Linked DNA regions of Homo sapiens: regions 1 and 3 are each linked to region 2. The links come from fine-mapping of genetic effects on gene expression. A gene starts in region 2. Each other region holds a variant in brackets. All regions are shown on one strand. Distances are between the middles of the regions. Region 1 overlaps AKAP13 (A-kinase anchoring protein 13). Region 2 holds the start of LINC02883 (long intergenic non-protein coding RNA 2883). Region 3 has its middle 7.9 kb from the start of MIR548AP.

The links. PIP is the estimated chance that this variant, and not a neighbour inherited with it, causes the effect.
Region 1: its variant is the best candidate, but not a certain one, in a credible set for the expression of LINC02883 in whole blood (TOPMed, PIP 0.81).
Region 3: its variant is the best candidate, but not a certain one, in a credible set for the expression of LINC02883 in sun-exposed skin (GTEx, PIP 0.78).

What each region holds. Positions count from the first base shown.
Region 1 is chr15:85,698,504-85,703,979 of GRCh38, forward strand. The region is part of intron 17 of AKAP13 (A-kinase anchoring protein 13); the gene reads left to right. Among named protein-coding and RNA genes, the nearest start is that of LINC02883, 57 kb to the right of the region's middle. The variant G/A (reference allele first, on the strand shown) is at 2,103.
Region 2 is chr15:85,755,466-85,760,941 of GRCh38, forward strand. LINC02883 (long intergenic non-protein coding RNA 2883) reads right to left here and starts at 3,260. Exons shown (of 6, transcript NR_120366.1): 1 at 3,046-3,260; 2 at 2,786-2,883; 3 at 2,419-2,524; 4 at 357-491; 5 at 53-190. KLHL25 (kelch like family member 25) reads right to left here. Exons shown (of 3, transcript NM_022480.4): 3 at 3,861-5,476. RefSeq lists an enhancer at 5,137-5,476.
Region 3 is chr15:85,830,798-85,836,273 of GRCh38, forward strand. No RefSeq gene overlaps it. Among named protein-coding and RNA genes, the nearest start is that of MIR548AP, 7.9 kb to the left of the region's middle. The variant C/T (reference allele first, on the strand shown) is at 3,040.

The DNA.
Region 1 (5,476 bases), 57 kb before region 2:
GATCAGAGGTTGCCAAACTTTTTCTGCAAAGGAACCAATGGTATGTTAGGCTTTGCAGCCCATCAGGTCTTTGTCATGACTACTGGACTCTGTCCTTGTAGCACAAAAGCAACCATAGACGATGGATGTGACTGTGTTCCAATAAAAATTTATTTACAGGCCTGGCACGGTGGCTCATGCCTGTAATCCCAGCACTTTGGGAGGCCTAGGCAGGTAGATCACTTGAGGTCAGGAGTTTGAGACCAGCCTGGCCAACATGGTGAAACCCCGTCTCTACTAAAAATACAGAAATCAGCTGGGCATGGTGGTGCACGCCTGTAATCCCAGCTACTTGGGAGGCTGAGGCAGGAGAATCACTCGAACCCAGGAGGCAGAGGTTGCAGTGAGCCGAGATCGAGCCCCTGCACTCCAGCCTGGGAAACAGAGCGAGACCTTGTCTCAAAAAAAAAAAAAAAAAAAAAAAAAAATTTACAAATACAGGCTGTGGGCCTAATTCAGCCCAAGGACCATAGTGTGCCAAGCCCTGGGAGAGATTTGCAGGTGCAGACAGAGCTCTCCAAGACATTTTGATGAGTTGGAAAGTCAGTAAATAGAACAATATATACAGCATGATCCTAGTTTATGGAAAACAAACAGTTTATATAAATTTACAAAAATATGCCAGGGATGGTGGCTCACAGCTGTAATCCCTGCACTTTGGGAGGCTGAGACGGGCAGAACACCTGAGGTCAGGAGTTCAAGACCAGGCTGGGCAACATGGTGAAACCCCATCTCTACTAAAAAACAAAAAATTAGCTGGGCGTGGTGGTGCATGCCTGTAATCCCAGCTACTCAGGAGGCTGAGGCAGGAGAATCACTTGAACCCAGGAGGCAGAGGTTGCAGTGAGCCAAGATCACACCACCGCACTTTAGCGTGCGCAACAAGAGTGAAACTCTATCTCAAAAAAAAAAAAAATTCTTTTTACAAAAATATCTGAAAGGCTATACACCAAACTGTTAACAATCTGAAGAAAGAGAAATAAGGAGAAAAGGAGTTGAAGAGGACTCTTTATTTTATTCTTTTAGATTGTTTGAATTTTTAGAGAATGTACTTACATATTATTTGTATGTCTAAAAACAAAATGTAAATATTGGACCACTGATAGTTTCAAAGGTTTTTCTAGTTATTTATCAGCTGATCTCTGATGAAGGCACAAAATAAGTTGGTATTTGATTTGAGAATTTAATGGACAAAGCAGAATTACTACCAGAACAGAGTAAGCTTATAAGCCTTGAGGAGAGTTGTTCTACCACTGTTATTGATAGCACCAGCTTGAATCAGAAGTAGTATAGTTGATCTACCAACTCTCAGTTCTGGATTGTGATGTGAAACATTATCAGGAGATTTAAGGTTGAAAGTTATAGACAGTCTTTTTGAAGACCCAAAGAATCTTGTGCTATAGAGGACAATAGATTTAAGAACCGTTGGCTTATGGTTATAATGAGTGGCTGTACCTTTCCATGACTAGCTCCAGATAATTTTGCAATTTTAAGTTCAGGCTAAAAGAAGTTGTCTAATATATGCCAGTGTATATTTAGCCTTGTATTGCCATTGACTTGTGTATATACATTATTTCTAGGTTACAAATAGTTGAAATTTGCCCTCTTTGGCTATATTAAGTCTTTGTCTACATTAGACTATCACTCAGAATTAAACCTGTAACTGGCATATAATAAATTTATCAGATAGCAGAAATATTCAGTTAATGTAGGAGAATGCACAGGCATCCTAAGCCCATTTTTGCTTTCTTGATATGTCTTCCTGTTAAACATGATAGAAATTCTCTTTTACTGGACTCCCTGGATGATGAAGCACACATAGCTAGGACACCACAAGTTATTAGACTCCTTATGCTATCAGTGTCGTATGTGCTAGAACCGCCTCTGGAGAGCAAGATCTGGGTTACCTCTTGGAGACTTCCATTGCCCAACGATGCCAGAGGTACCCGTGGAGAATCACTTGTGTAGGGTTTGGTATTGACTGGGGAAAACTGTAGGAAAGGTTTGAGGGTCTGAGATTCTCAGCCACACTTCTGTGTAGTAATTAGTTTAATGGATAGGGC[G/A]GTAGCTTTCAGGATGTCAGGTGTTTGGAAGCTCCACAGATTTCTGAATTTGTGTATATTTAAAACTACATAAAAACGTACCTTCTTAAAGGTATAATTCCCAAATTTTAACATCAACATATCAGCTTTAGCTATCAGCCTACCTATTCATTTGTATTTTTCCTTCCATCTCTAATTAATTGAAGATTATACTGTGATTGCAAGGCAAGCCATTAAAAAAAAACTGCTAATATTGGTTATTTATCTACATGAAGAACGTTAAGATGTTCTCTGTGTCATGTACTCAAAATTAAATAAAGAAATTAGAGGTTGTGGTAGGTAAGTGAATTGCGAATGTCATGCACCTCTGACCTCACGTTTTTAGTTCATCACAGCTGCTTCATTGTTCTCATTAACTTTGAAAGTAAATATTAAAATTGCAACTCAAAATAAATCTGTACTGTTTTACATATCTGAACACAGTATATTAATATTTCATATAAGACTTTTTAGAGTTTTTCTAGTATTTTGGAAAACCAGTGAAATAGTGGATTGGCTACTGGTTCTGTGCTAATAGTGTTTATAAGTGGAATGGGACTTTTTTTAATATGAAGTCACCCAAGGAATTTGCTTTTTCTGGAGGCACGTTATTTCATGAAGTCCAGTGTGTTATCACTAGACTAAAGTCTTTTCTGTTTGGGAAGTCTGTCGGTGGGGACAGGGGTCATAATAACCTTTGCTAGTTGTTCTTTGATTTTTGGTAATGGCTTGATCTAATCAAATATCAGAGATTATCTTAGTTCTACCTGCTCAGCAAAAACCAGGAAAAAGAGTTAACATATTTGAGGGGTTTTTTTTGTTTTTTGTTTGTTTGAGACGGCGTCTCACTCTGTCACCTAGGCTGGAGTACAGTGGCGCAATCTCGGCTCACTGCAACCTCCTCCTCCCAGGTTCAAGCGATTCTTCTGCCTCAGTCTCCCAAGTAGCTGGGACTACAGGAACACGCCACCACACCTGGCTAATTTTTTTTTGTATTTTTATTAGAGTTGGGGTTTCACCATATTGGCCAGGCTGGTCTTGAACTCCTGACTCAGGTGATCCACCCTCCTCAGGCTCCCAAAGTGTTGGGATTACAGGCGTGAGCCACCATGCCTGGCTATATTTGAGGTTTAAACTGAAAAGTATCAGACAGCAAAAAGGAATAGTTTAAGTTGGGCTTGACTGTTACCCTAATATGCACTAAGTTTCAAAAATACATTCTTTAATTTGCATACCACCCTACTCCAGAAGTAATGTAGAAATAGTCTCAACATCTGGTGATAGCATTAAGGTTTATGTAAGACAGTCTGCAGCCTGCCTCTTATAAAAAGAAGGGGGTAGGCCAGGCACGGTGGCTCACGCCTGTAATCCCAGCACTTTAGGAGGGCAAGGCAGGTGGATCACGAGATCAGGCGTTCAAGACCAGCCTGACCAACATGGTGAAACCCCGTCTCTACTAAAAATACAAAAAATTAGCTGGGCATGATGGTGGGCGCTTGTAATCCCCAGCTACTTGGGAGGCTGAGGCAGGAGAACTGCTCGAACCCGGGAGGCGGAGGTTACAGTCAGCCAAAGATCGCGCCATTGCACTTCAGCCTGGGTGACAGAGCAAGACTCACACACACACACACACACACACACACACACAAAAGGAGTGAAAAGGATTGAAAGCAACAAAATAGTATGTAGTCATCTTCTCAAAGGAACCAAAGTAATGGGCTGATTATCTTCAGCTTCCTGAAGAAGCTGAATGTTTGTATGTAGGAAGTCCCATGTGTTATCTTGGCAGGAAGTAGAAAATATGAGTAATTTGGGGACGCAGAATCTTTCGTCACTTCCCTCCATCGCGTCTCATGTCCAGGATCTTCCCAGGAGTCGTAGGAAATGTAGCATCCATGCAGTTAGTCGTTTACCTCCTAGGAAACCTTTGTGCTCTTAGGAGACAGTGGCTTCCCATTGTGGTTAAGTGTAACCCTGTTTGGCTGACCCCTGGATAGAGCTTCATACCCTCAGCACTGCATAGTCACCTTTGACTTGTGGTTAGAAAGATCAGCCATATAGTCCATCATGATGATATGTTATGATGGTTTATACAAGAAACTGGGACTTTTTATCTCAGCCAAAACGCTACTCTTGCTTTAGGATTAGGTGACTTTAACAGGGTTAATAGAGGAATGTCTTTTCAACTCTTATTTCTCTATTATGTAAAGCTGTCCTTGAATAGTCAGCTGTTCTTTCCAGCTGCCACAAATAATTTGTTCTTTGAAAAGCTTAGTGACTTAGTGGGGTCTTTCAGAATAAGGAATTTGTTATGTTCAGGTTTTGGGGTCTTGCCAGTGGTTCTGTTTTGCTTGCTTTAAACAGATGTAAAATGATACTGAGATTATTGCTGATTTATTTTCTGTTGTGCTAGCAGCATTTCAGTACTTTTGTGGTAGGTTGTTTCTTTTACATAAAAAATAAACAAGTAAACCAGCTGCAATCTAAGTAGGAAACATAAGAATTTAGAATGTGTGTGATGGTTAGATTTTACTTCTGATTTCATCAGAAAAGTTGCCCTCTAGACAGTTTTCTGGCATTTATAGTTCATTGCTTATATGAGAGAATAAAATACATATAGTTGATTAAAGGAAGGAAGTTTATTACTTAGGGAAAAGGAAGGTAAAAAAAGACCCTAAGCAATAAAGGCAATTCTTTTTTAAGCAGAATACTTTCATTTTATTTCATTTTTGTTTACCAGTGTTGTTACGAAAACTGCTGCTGGGGCTACTTCAGCTGAGATGATTTGGCTCTTTTTTGTGGCTTTCTTCTTGTTCTGTACATCAGCACTGTGGTTATTACACCAGCTACCAAGAACATCTCACATGCCTTTTGCATATAAGCACTCTTAGTCCAGATAGGGCGATGTCTCAAATCCCCCAAAGATTTTATTTATTGGCCAGGTGCCGTGGCTCACGCCTGTGATCCCAGCACTTTGGAAGGCTGAGGCGGGTGGATCACCTGAGGTTAGGAGTTTGAGACCAGCCTGGCCAACATGGCGAAATACCATCTCCACTAAAAATACAAAAAATTAGTCAGGCGTAGTGGCATGGACCGGTAATCCCAGCTACTCAGGAGGCTGAGACAGCAGAATCACCTGAACCCAGGAGGCAGAGGTTGCAGTGAGCCAAGATCGTACCACTGCACTCCAGCTTGGGTGACAGAGCAAGACTCCATCTCAAAAAAAAAAAATATATATATATATATATACACACACATATATTTAATAATTTTTTTTTGAGAGACAGGGTCTCTGTTAAAGATTTTAAACAAGAAGTTTAAAGTTGCAGAAAGAATTTTGTAGCATGCATTTCTAA
Region 2 (5,476 bases):
AGTCTTGGATGAAGCCCTAGTTAGGGTTGTACAGATGAGAGACACAGAGTACCTCAACGTTCACTCTGCAGAGTGGACAGAAGCGGGGCCAGCTTCGAAAGCGTTGAGGAAGCTCACAGGAGCCAATGTGAAGAAAGTGCGGCCATGGAGGAGTCATCCGTGGCACTCGCTCTCAGAGCCTGCATTTATCCTGCATGCACGTGTCAGGATGAGACTGTGCCATCCTGTTCCCTCTGCGGTCCCGACGCTGGTAGAGCCACCACAGGGTGGGCTTGGCAGGATGTGTCTCTTGCTCCCATCCTCCCTGGTTCCCCACCATCCCTGCAAGCTGAGTGGAGAAGCTGTGATGAGTCTACCTGGAAATGGCTTTGGAGCCCTGGGTCCTGGCATGGAGCTGGTGCCCATCAGTAGAATTACTTAATCTATCGTGCAACCCAGGAGTGTCTGGAAGCTTCTCTGCGTACCAGAGCAACGCTGCTCATCTCCTTTACCTGCAGAAAGGACAGGAAAGGAGTCCAGCCCTACTAAATTCAACTCAAAAAAGCCACTGCTCCCCTACTGCAAGCCCTCAGGGGCCCGAGCGCCAGGTGCCAAACCCAGGCCAACCCCAGGGCCAGAGCAAGGCCCCTCAGGTTCAGGGGGCCTGGGCAGCTGGGGCCAGACACACAGAAACTGCCAGAGCTTCTGCTGCCATGCTGAGCATGTTTCCTCAGCTTTAAAATGGTGACCTCAACAGTGACTGGGGCTAGGCAAGGTGGCTCTCACCTGTAATCCCAGCACTTTGGGAGGCCGAGGTGGGCGGATCACTTGATCACTAACCTCAGTCAGAGGTTAGTGAAAACAAAGGTGTCATTCTTCTCCCACCCAAGTGCATGGACCCCCTGAATTTGATCCCAAATCCCAAGTTAAGAAGCCTCCGGCCTATTCTAGGCTTTTCCTTGACCTTTAATGAGGCAGAGCCACATCCCAAAGCCCAACAAGGCAAGGGAAGATGCAGGACAATACTGTGCCCGTTCTGGGAAATTCACCCAAATCACCCTGGCTCCCTGGGCAGGGCCTGAACCTCTGCAGGTGCCATGGGCGGGCCAAGCTGCAGGTCAGGTAGGGTTGGGCCTGAGGGAAGAAGAGCAGCTGGGGGGCCGATCACCTTCATGGCCTCTTCAAGTTGGAAGAGACCATTCCCACCTCCTGAAGGAGAGAGGCCGGGCAGATCCATCGGGGCTGGGCCTGGGGCCGGGGCTGGGACATGATGGACGGGGCATGCAAGTTTCTTGCTCTGCGAAATATCCCCCCAGTGATGATCCAGAAGAACCAAGGCTCTTTCCAAGCTGTGCTCATTAGACAACTGCTTCTGAAGAAGTTGCTTCTTTCCCCACTATGATTCTACAGCCTTCGGTGTTGAGCAAGGGATGGTTGCCACACACCCTTGGGGTGGATGACTCTGGGCTCATTCTTGTCAATTCCTGACCAAAGAAATGTCCTTTGAAGGCAGGGAGACCTGGCTGAGCAGCCAGGTGGAGGAGGCAGTTGGCTACCCTCTCCTTGCCCTTGGCAACTTGACAGTCCCCCCAGGCAGGCTCTCAGGATGCCAAAGCCTCCAAGATGGCCCGTTTTCTTTCCTGCATCAGGCACAACCCAGGAAAGCTCCACTGGCCATCTTGGGACCGAGGTTTCCAGGGAGACCTTGCCCCATCACTGATGGGGAAGGCGCCTTCTCCCTTCCCCAAGCCCCATCCCAGACTCAGTCTGACCCCTGGGAGGCCAAGGAACATGGAGCTAGGCCTGCTGGGCAATGACTGGAAGCAACACTGCTCCCAGCCCCCAGCCCCCACAATGTAGCATATGGCTTGGTTTCAAATCCCAGTTCCACTGCTGTAATGTGGCGGCCATTCTCCCCCTGTAAAGGGCTATCTGGGCATTGGTCCTGGTGTTTAGTGCTTTATAGAATTTGACCTCAACTTTTAACCCTACTATCATTAAGTCTGTATCAGAGAATCAAGTGGTTTAACCAAGCTTGCACATACATGAGAGCCACACGTGAGAGCTTGAACCCAAACTCAGGTGGGCCTAGCTCCAAATCCACATTCTGTCAGTTGCAACCGTGTTTTTTCCTCCTCCTCCTCCTCCTCTTTCCAGCATGAGACATTGGGCAAGTTACTGTGACCTGTGGACCCATTTCTTCATCAGCAAGAAGAGGACAAGAATGTCTACCTCCGGGGGTCACTGTGAGGGTTAAAGGAGGTAGTTATGCAAAGCACTGGCCAGTGGGCTTGACAACTGCTTGACAAGAAGGGTTTGACAAGAGCCAGGATCTTGGCAGATGACGGCTCTGCATGCTCCCAGAGAAGCGGGAGGCAGGGCGGTGTGCCCAGGTTCCTTCCAACCCCTGACCCAGCATGTAGAGGAAGAGGCTGCTACCTGTCTAATATCTACGCTCCCTTTACTTGGCGTTGGAGTCCTGGAGTTTCCTCGGGGCACTTTCCAGTCCCGCTCGCAGTCAGGCGTGGATGTGACTGAGTTCTAGCTGTTGGGAAAATGGAGAAGTTATGGTGCAACTTCTGGGACATGCCCTTAAAACAGGCTTGCCCATCACTTTCTCTCCTCCCCTTTCCACTGGCTGGAATGCAGATGGGATGGCCGGGGCTGCGAAGGCCAGGGTGGACCAGGAAACCGCTGCCTTGCATGGAAGACGGCAGGGCAGGGAGAGAGGGGGTGGGAGTTGGAGAGAGAGGGAGAGAGGGGGAGAGAGTTGGAGCCCTGTGGGCCACAGCTGGCTCACACTCACCCTGTGACTGTGTGACAGGGAACTTCACCTCTGCTGCTGTCTGGACTCTAGCTGGAGCCAACTCCTGGCTTTGGATGCCCAGAGTGAAGCGCTCAGGCCTGTGTGGAAGTGGTAGCGTTCACCTGTGGTCCCCACCACTGCTACAGGAGCAGACAGTGCGAGGCAGAGTCCCAGGATGCCCCTCCCAGGGCTGCACCTCTGGGCAGGGGGAGGGACGAGGCCCTCTGTGCTCTTGGCTCTTCTACACGCACCATACTCACCTCTGAGACACACCCGCTCAAGATCATTCCATTTTCTAAGGAATCTGGCGTCATGCCCCTACGCCAGCATCAGAAGCACTTCTTACACTGTGAAGGCGCTATTTGGATTTTGTGGGCCAGCACACCACTGAGCACCACGGAAGCCACTGCTGAGAGCCACCGTGCTGGGGCACCTCCGGGTTCCTGTTCACAGCAGAGCCACCCTGCACGCAGGCTGCGCCACGGCATGACCTTCTCGGGCTGCCCGCTGTCTGAGGGGCGCCTGAAGGTGAGATCACAAAACACAGAACACGATGTTTACCCGTGAGCATACGCTTGAGCTCATGAGGTTCATGGTGACTATGAAAACGCACAAGGAGGGCAGGTAGCCCAGGGCCCACGGTGCAACCAGTGGGCGCAACGGTGCCGTGAGCTGGCGCTGCGGCCGTGAAGCTGCCTCCTGGAGCCATTTCGCCCCTCTGAATGGCGCTCGGGTTATTTTCAGACAAAGGAGCATCAACTGGAGGTTCTGCCTTTTCGAATGGATGGAATTACATTCCCAACTTCTATTTACCAGAGTTTCCAGGAGAGAATCACTCTCAGGAGGGGCAGACAGGATCAGGACTCTCCACGGAATCAACTTCATGGCTTCTAAAGCAACTTCAGGAGGCACAGGAATGGGGAGACCTCTCATCTGGGTGGGTTCCCCCTTCCCAGCTCATGAGAGGGGCAGATGCCAGCAGGCAGGCCTTGAGCCTTGGCTGGTGGGACAAGACCAAAGTCAGCCACCAGCAATGTCTCCAAGACTGATCCCAGCACACAAGGCAGGCAAAGAATTTTCTCAACTCTTTTTATTAAGTTAGAAAACTGATAAAAGCAACACAACTTTTGGGGAAAGCACCATGGCACGTCCTTTGTGCTATGTGATAAGTGTGCTTTATCTCAATGAAGCAACCCCACGGGTCCAGGCACCCTCCCTGCAGTCCCCGCGGCCAGGCTCCTGAGTGTGCCAGCAGAGCCGTCCCCTGGGACCACAGCCAAGTGCCTTCGGGCAGCTGGCCTGACACAGGCGGGGTCTGCTGGGTCTACAGGGTCCAAGGAGCCCCATGCAGCCAGTGCCCCATGGCGGGCGTGTCAGTGGGCAAACCCTGCCCAAAGGTCCCACCCCCAAGAGGCCTCCAGGACCCGCACCAAGGCATGGGGGACACTCGTGGCTGCTTAAGTAACTGGTATGTGCACAGCCCCCTCCGCGGCCCTAATCTTGAGCCAGCCAAGCAGTGTTCACACTGCAGGTGCCTGGGAAGCCCCAAGTTTGGACACCCTGCCCAGTCCCTGTCAGGGCACCAACACCCCTCCCTCTCAAATGGTGGCTTGGGAGTGAGCGAGAGGCATTAGGATGGTCACTGACAGGCGCCAACCTCTCCATAGCCCAGGTGTCAGGGAGGTGCTGGTGAGGGACCCCAGTGACTCAGGAGGTGACAGCAATGAACAAATGTTCAGCAGTTCTCTCGGGGCCATTCTTATCTTGGAGCTCAGGGAGCAAATGGGGGCCAAAACGCAAGAGGATGGTGAGGGTCCCGTCACTGTCCTCCACACTGAGATGGATGCGGCCCTGGTGGGATCTGCAGGGGACACCCTGGGGTCCCTCTGCTGTCTCCAGCTCACAGCTGCTCCTGGTCTTGGAGGGCAGCGTGGTCTCCTGGGGAGAAGCCCCCAGTGCTGTTGGCAGGTGTGTGCCATGGGGGTCACTGCTGCCTCTCAGGGTGGGCTCTGAGGAGGGGAGGGGAGGGGTGACCCCCAGGGCACTCGGAGCCTTGAGTCTGCTGCAGGCCCAGCTCCACTGAGTGGCCACGAGCAACTGTGTCCCCACCGGGCCACAGCACTGAGCAAGGCCCTGAGTAGGTGGGCTGGGACTTACAGCTTTGTGGAAGGGGCCCACAAACCTTGGAGGTCTGGGTGTCCTTTGCTAATAAGGCCTCATGGATGTCACTGAGGCCCCCCTGCAGTTTCTGCACCTTAAAAAATCTGTCTTGGTCACCTTTCTGGTCTCAACCCCTGGGAACCTAGTTTCCCAGGCCCAGGACACCATCTATAGATGGCAGTAGAGCCCCAGCAGGGCAGGCCAGGAGGGAAAGGATGTGTGGCAGTGCCGCAGCCCCAAAGCCCACCCGGGGCGCCTCCCTGCCCCTGCCTGCCCGGCCCCAGTCCAGGACCTGCCAAACAGGTGATCTCAAGGCTCTGCAAGTGTCCTTCTCCCCGACGCCAGGGTCAGTCCTGGTGGCAGTCCATGCCCCTCTGGGAGGTATGTCTTCCCACAAACCACTGCAAAGCTGAAGAGGCCCCCAGGGGCACGGATGCAAGAGATGCTTCTCTTCTCTTGCCTAAAGCTCAGAACAGCCCAAGGCTGCTGCTCCCCAGAGCTGGCAGGGCCCCTTCCACCTCTCGGAGTGCT
Region 3 (5,476 bases), 75 kb after region 2:
TCAGATTCAAGTAGTAGTGAGGCAAGGATGGAATAGGAAAGGAACAGCAAGCTGAAGGCCTTGGAGGGGCAAGAGCTGGGCCAGGCAAGTGGAGAAGGCTGGACCCGAGGGTGGAGGCTGCCTAGAGCCCCTTATCATGCAGGGCTGCTGGGGGGCCTGAGGATGCCGCACAAGGGAGGACCTGGCCAGCTGGCAGAGCGATGATGCCACCTGTGTGTTTCATCTGAAGAGGGTTTATGACCTGGGGGCTGTATGTGTCCTGAGGGTAGAGAGGAGGAAAGATGGAAGATGGGGGTCTAGAGGGTTAGGGTAGAGAAAAGTGAGGATGTGAGATGCTGGAGGAAAAGTCTCCTGAAGTTCATTCTGACAGCCCTAGCCCTGTCCTCTAATCTCATCTCCCTCCCATTCCCTTCCCAATCCCCCTAGCGCAGCCTTTTTTTTGGGACTGCCAGCCACCCTTAAAGGGAAGGCCCCAACCCTTCCCTCAATTGGGGACCTCAGGGAGAGCTGGCAGGGCCCTGGGGCCCAGAGGGCTGGCTTCCTTCTTGTCAGAGGCAAAACAAAGGCACCTCCAGGGCTCAATGAAAACTCAGTTTGTTTTCTGGCTGTGGCCAAGGGACACCTTTAATTGCAAAACTTAAAACCAGCCCTTGTTGGAAATTGCGACAAGGCCAGACCATATGGGAATGTTTCCCGATGGAAAGGAGCATCTGTTCTCTATAAGATATGCAAATGACGTGTAATTGCACCTTCAGAGAGCTCTGTTTTCCGTCCCCAGCACAGTGCCCACAGGCGGGGGAATCTGACCATGGTTTAAAGTCCTCAGCCCTCCACCCACAAGACAGAGGATCCACGCTGAATCCACACTGCACGCTTCCCAGATTGAGGGACCCAGACCAGCCAGCGCCCTCTGCTGACATTCTCAGTCTTGTACTCAGGGTCCAGAAGGGGTTGAATAAGGCACACACTGCATTCCTATTCTGTTCCAGGTTTTGTGCAAAGTGGGGTTGTTTCCTTTAATGTGGGAGAAAACCCCAATGAGATCTTTTGCTTTGCAGACAAGGTAACCAAGGCTCGGAGGATTTATGTAGTTGGTCCGACATGTCATCTGGCACAGGGTGGGACTGAGATTCACAGCCAGGACTGACCGCTGGAAAAGCCCCTCGCGTGTCTTCTAACATTTACTGAGTGCCTGGGTCATTTCTTTAGCAAATGTTCTCTTATTCTGTCTCCTGTCTGCGAACGCCTGCACTCTCTGTCTCTCAGTCTCTCTTTGTCCCTCCTCCCTCCTGGGAATGGCTGAATAAGGGTCTTCACAAGAAAGGATCATTCCTTCAAAATTAATGCCGCATTTGCTTAAAATGTATTAGAAATGTGTTACAGCAAAAAGCACTTACAATAGCACTGGTAAAATGAAAATGTACATTAAGAAAAATTAGGCTGGGCGTGGTGTCTCACGCCTGTAATCCCAGCACTTTGGGAGGCGGGAGGATTATGTGAGCTCAGGATTTCGACACCAGCCTGGGTAACATAGTGAAACTGTGTCTCTACAAAAAATAGAAAAATTAGCTGGGTGTGGTGGCACACACCTGTTGTCCTAGCTGCTTGGGAGGCTTAGGTGGGAGGATTGCTGGAGCCTGGGAGATCAAGGCTGCAGTGAGTTGCGATTTCATCACTGCACTACAGCCTGGGTGACAGAGTCAGACCCTTTCTCAAAAACACCCAACAAACAAAACAATCACCAAGCCATTTAGAGGAACCAGCCATTCTCTGCAGGAAATAAAGGAACTAAGAGTTACCTCATCACCACTGCCACCACCATCACCACCATCATCATCAGAATGGAGGTGATGCGGTGGGGCTTCCTGGCGCTGCTCTTCACGGCTTGTGAGGAGCTCTGTGCAGCAGCTAGGCCAGGTGAGAACACAAGTCATGGGCCCTGGAGTCAGCCCTTGTGGCAAGTGACTTCCTTCTCTGTGATCTCCTTTCCATCTGTAAAATGGGGATCATAGTTCCTACATGATGGGTTTGTTCTGAGAGTTCAGGTGCTAATGTTTTTAGAAGAGTGCCTGGCCCCTAAGAAGTGTTTAATACACACTAGCTGTTATTACTTTTCAAGATCTTGCAGGAGACCCCGCATGGTGATTTGAGAACTTCCCGGAGTCCTGGGGTGAGAAACAGTGATCGCTCTGGCTTCTTCCACCAGAGGTACCAGGGTTTTTACCTTTTGTACACATCAGGAGGCTTGAAGACATTTGAAAAACTGCCTTAGGTTATAGGGGTCATTTAATCTCCTTGGGCTCCATGAGGTCAGGGAATGTCACTTACAGCATCCTTAGTGTCCAGAGAGTTCCTGGCATGGAGGAGATGCTTGATAAATTCACGCTGAATTGAATGGTGCCTCCTTTTCCTTTTCTTTTTTTGTTTTTTTGATTTCCAGGGATGTGATTTTGGTTCACTGCAACCTCCACCTCCCATGTTCAAGTGATTCTCCTGCCTCAGCCTCCTGAGTAGCTGAGATTACAGGCACGCACTACCATATCAGGCTAATTTTTATATTTTTAGTAGAGACGGGGTTTTGCCATGTTGGCCAGGCTGGTCTCGAACTCCTGACCTCAAGTGATCCGCCCGCCTCGGCTTCCCAATGTACTGGGATTATAGGCATAAGCCACCAAGCCCGTCATCCTTTTTCTTTTCTATAAAATGTAAAAAGAATGCCCAAGTTTTGGTATGAGTGACCTTTTTAAGGGAGATGTTCTTCCAGGAAAGCACCTTGTTCACATACTCTGGGCCACCGTGCAGGGGCTCTGGAGGTGGTCTGACTCCCCCACCATTTAGTGCCAACCTCAGGGCATAGTGCCTGACCGAGATGGAGGAGAACAAGCCCTGGCGGTGTCTATGAAGCCAGAGGGAGTGGAAGACAGAACAGGAAGGGGAAGGAGGGTGGCCAGTGTCCTCATGGGGAAGGGGCAGGTGGGCGGAGAGGCTGGGAGAGCCGGTGTCTACCCAGAGAATGCCACATGGCACCTGGACCTGGTG[C/T]TCAGGGAGAAGTCCTCTGGCACCCCTGTGGGTGGGTGGGGTGTTGCCAATGGCCAAGATGGGCTTTGGCATAGCTGCTCTAAGCCTGTGGGCATTCTCCTCCCAGCTAGAAAGGAGAGGGGCTGCTCCTGCCTGTACATGCCAGGGGAAGCTGTTGGTCAGCTGCAAAATGAGGACATTCTCAAGACCGGCCTCTGCAGCGGCTGCTCCCACTTCTCCAGCTCTGGCCCACTTGCCATATGTTCTGGGAGGAAAAATCACGTCACTGAGGTTATTGTCCAGTGAACTGGTGATTCTGCTCTGGGGCCTTGTCGGAGCTGGAAGACTTTGTTTTTTGAATATCATTTCCTGGAGAAAGGTTATGGGGGAGGTGGGGGTTGTGGCAGGGTGGAGGGTTTTGCTGGATAAATAGACCTCTCCCCTTGTTTGTCCTGAGGAAGAGAGAATATTTCTGTCTTACAGATGAAACATCTGAGGCTCAGAGAGTGACTTCTCCAAGGCCACACGGCTAGGAACTTGGATTGAGTCTGTCTGGGATATTTTTTCTTTTCTTTTCTTTCTTTCTTGTTTGTTTTTGAGATGGAATCTCTCTCTGTTGCCCAGGCTGGAGTGCAGTGGCATGATCTCGGCTCACCGCGGCCTCCACCTGCAGGGCTCAAATGATTCTCATGCCTCAGCCTCCCGAGTAGCTGGGACTACAGGCGTGCACCACCATGCCCAGCTAATTTTTTGTATTTTAGTAGAGGCATGGTTTCACCATGTTGCCCAGGGTGGTCTTGAACTCCTGAGCTCAAGAGATTCGCCCGCCTTCGCCTCCCAAAGTGCTGGATTACAGGCATGAGCCACTGTGCCCGGCCAGGATATTTTTTCTGAACTCAACCTTGCTTTGCAAACTCTCAGCTCTGCACATTTGTATCCTTTCTCAGGCCCTACCTTCATGGATGAAAACCTCCCAGAGAGGGAGTTCGGAATAGCCCAACACCTACAGCCTCAGGGTTATTCTGCAGATGCCTTGAGCAGCCTCATCATGTGAGTTCCCAGCCCCAAACTTCCCCATTCCCTGGATCTCATCTGTCCATCTGGTGGTGATTGCAAAATGAAGTCACACTTACCCTTGTGCCCAAATTGCAGGTTCCGAGCCACTCATCCCCCTAGACAAGAACATTAGCCTTCAAGGGTCTTCACTCATTCATGGGAGATCTCAGAGGGAGCCTCACACACATACCCACTCTGTCAGTTGCAACCCCAGACAATGCCCACCCCTTTTTCCTTTCTGGTTCTGGTTTCCACCTGTGCACTAGTCACAGTTTTCTTGTCATTATCACCACAAAAGGGGCCACCTGAAGAATGATGTGCTGCTGACGTCTGGGCCAATGTAGCTTGTTCAGTGTTTGAAGGCCCTCACTCACTGCTAGAATCTCCAAAAGACTCTCATAAAGGCAGCTTGAGCTTCCACCTCGAAGGTCTTAAAACTTGTCCAGGCCGGGTGTGGTGGCTCATGCCTGTAATCCCAGCATTTTGGGAGGCCGAGGAAGGGAAATCACCTGAGGTCAGGGGTTGGAGACCAGCCTGGTCAACATGGTGAAACCCCATCTCTATTAAAAATACAAAAATTAGTCAGGTGTGGTGGCGCATGCCTGTAATCTCAGCTACTTAGGAGGCTGAGGCAGGAGAATCGCTTGAGCCTGGAGGTGGAGGTTGCAGTTAGTCGAGATCGCATCATTGCATTCCAGCCTGGGTGACAGAGCCAGACTCTCTCTAAAAAAAAAAAAAAAAAAAAAATCATGCATCCCTACTACATGCAAATCTGTTTAGTCATATAGTTTATACAGTTAGCACTGGATTTATATAGGGTGTACCTTAAAACCATGCACAAAGTAGAAATTACAAGGATGATACTTTTTCATAAATTATAAACATTAATGTATTATGCTCATTAAAGCCATATATAAAAAGAGAAATGTAAAATGGGGACATAAGAATAACTATAAAAATAAATTTAAGAAATAACTATATTGCACTGGATGCAGTGGCTCACATCTGTAATCCCAGCACTTTGGGAGGCAGAGGTGGGCTGATCACTAGGTCAGGAGTTCGAGACCAGCCTGGCCAATATGGTGACACTCTGTCTTTACTGAAATTACAAAAATTAGCCGGGCGTGGTGGTGCACACCTGTAGTCCCAGCTACTCGGGAGGCTGAGGCAGAGGCACAAGAACTGCTTGAACCCGGGAGGCAGAGGTTGCAGTCAGCTGAGATCACGCCACTGCACTCCAGCCTGGGCAGCAGAGTGAGACTCTGTCTCAAAAAAAAAAAAGAAAGAAAAGAAATAACTAATAACTATATTGGCTGGGCACGGTGGCTCACGCCTGTGATCCCAGCACTTTGGGAGGCCAAGGCGGGCAGATTACCTGAGGTCAGGAGTTCAAGACCAGCCT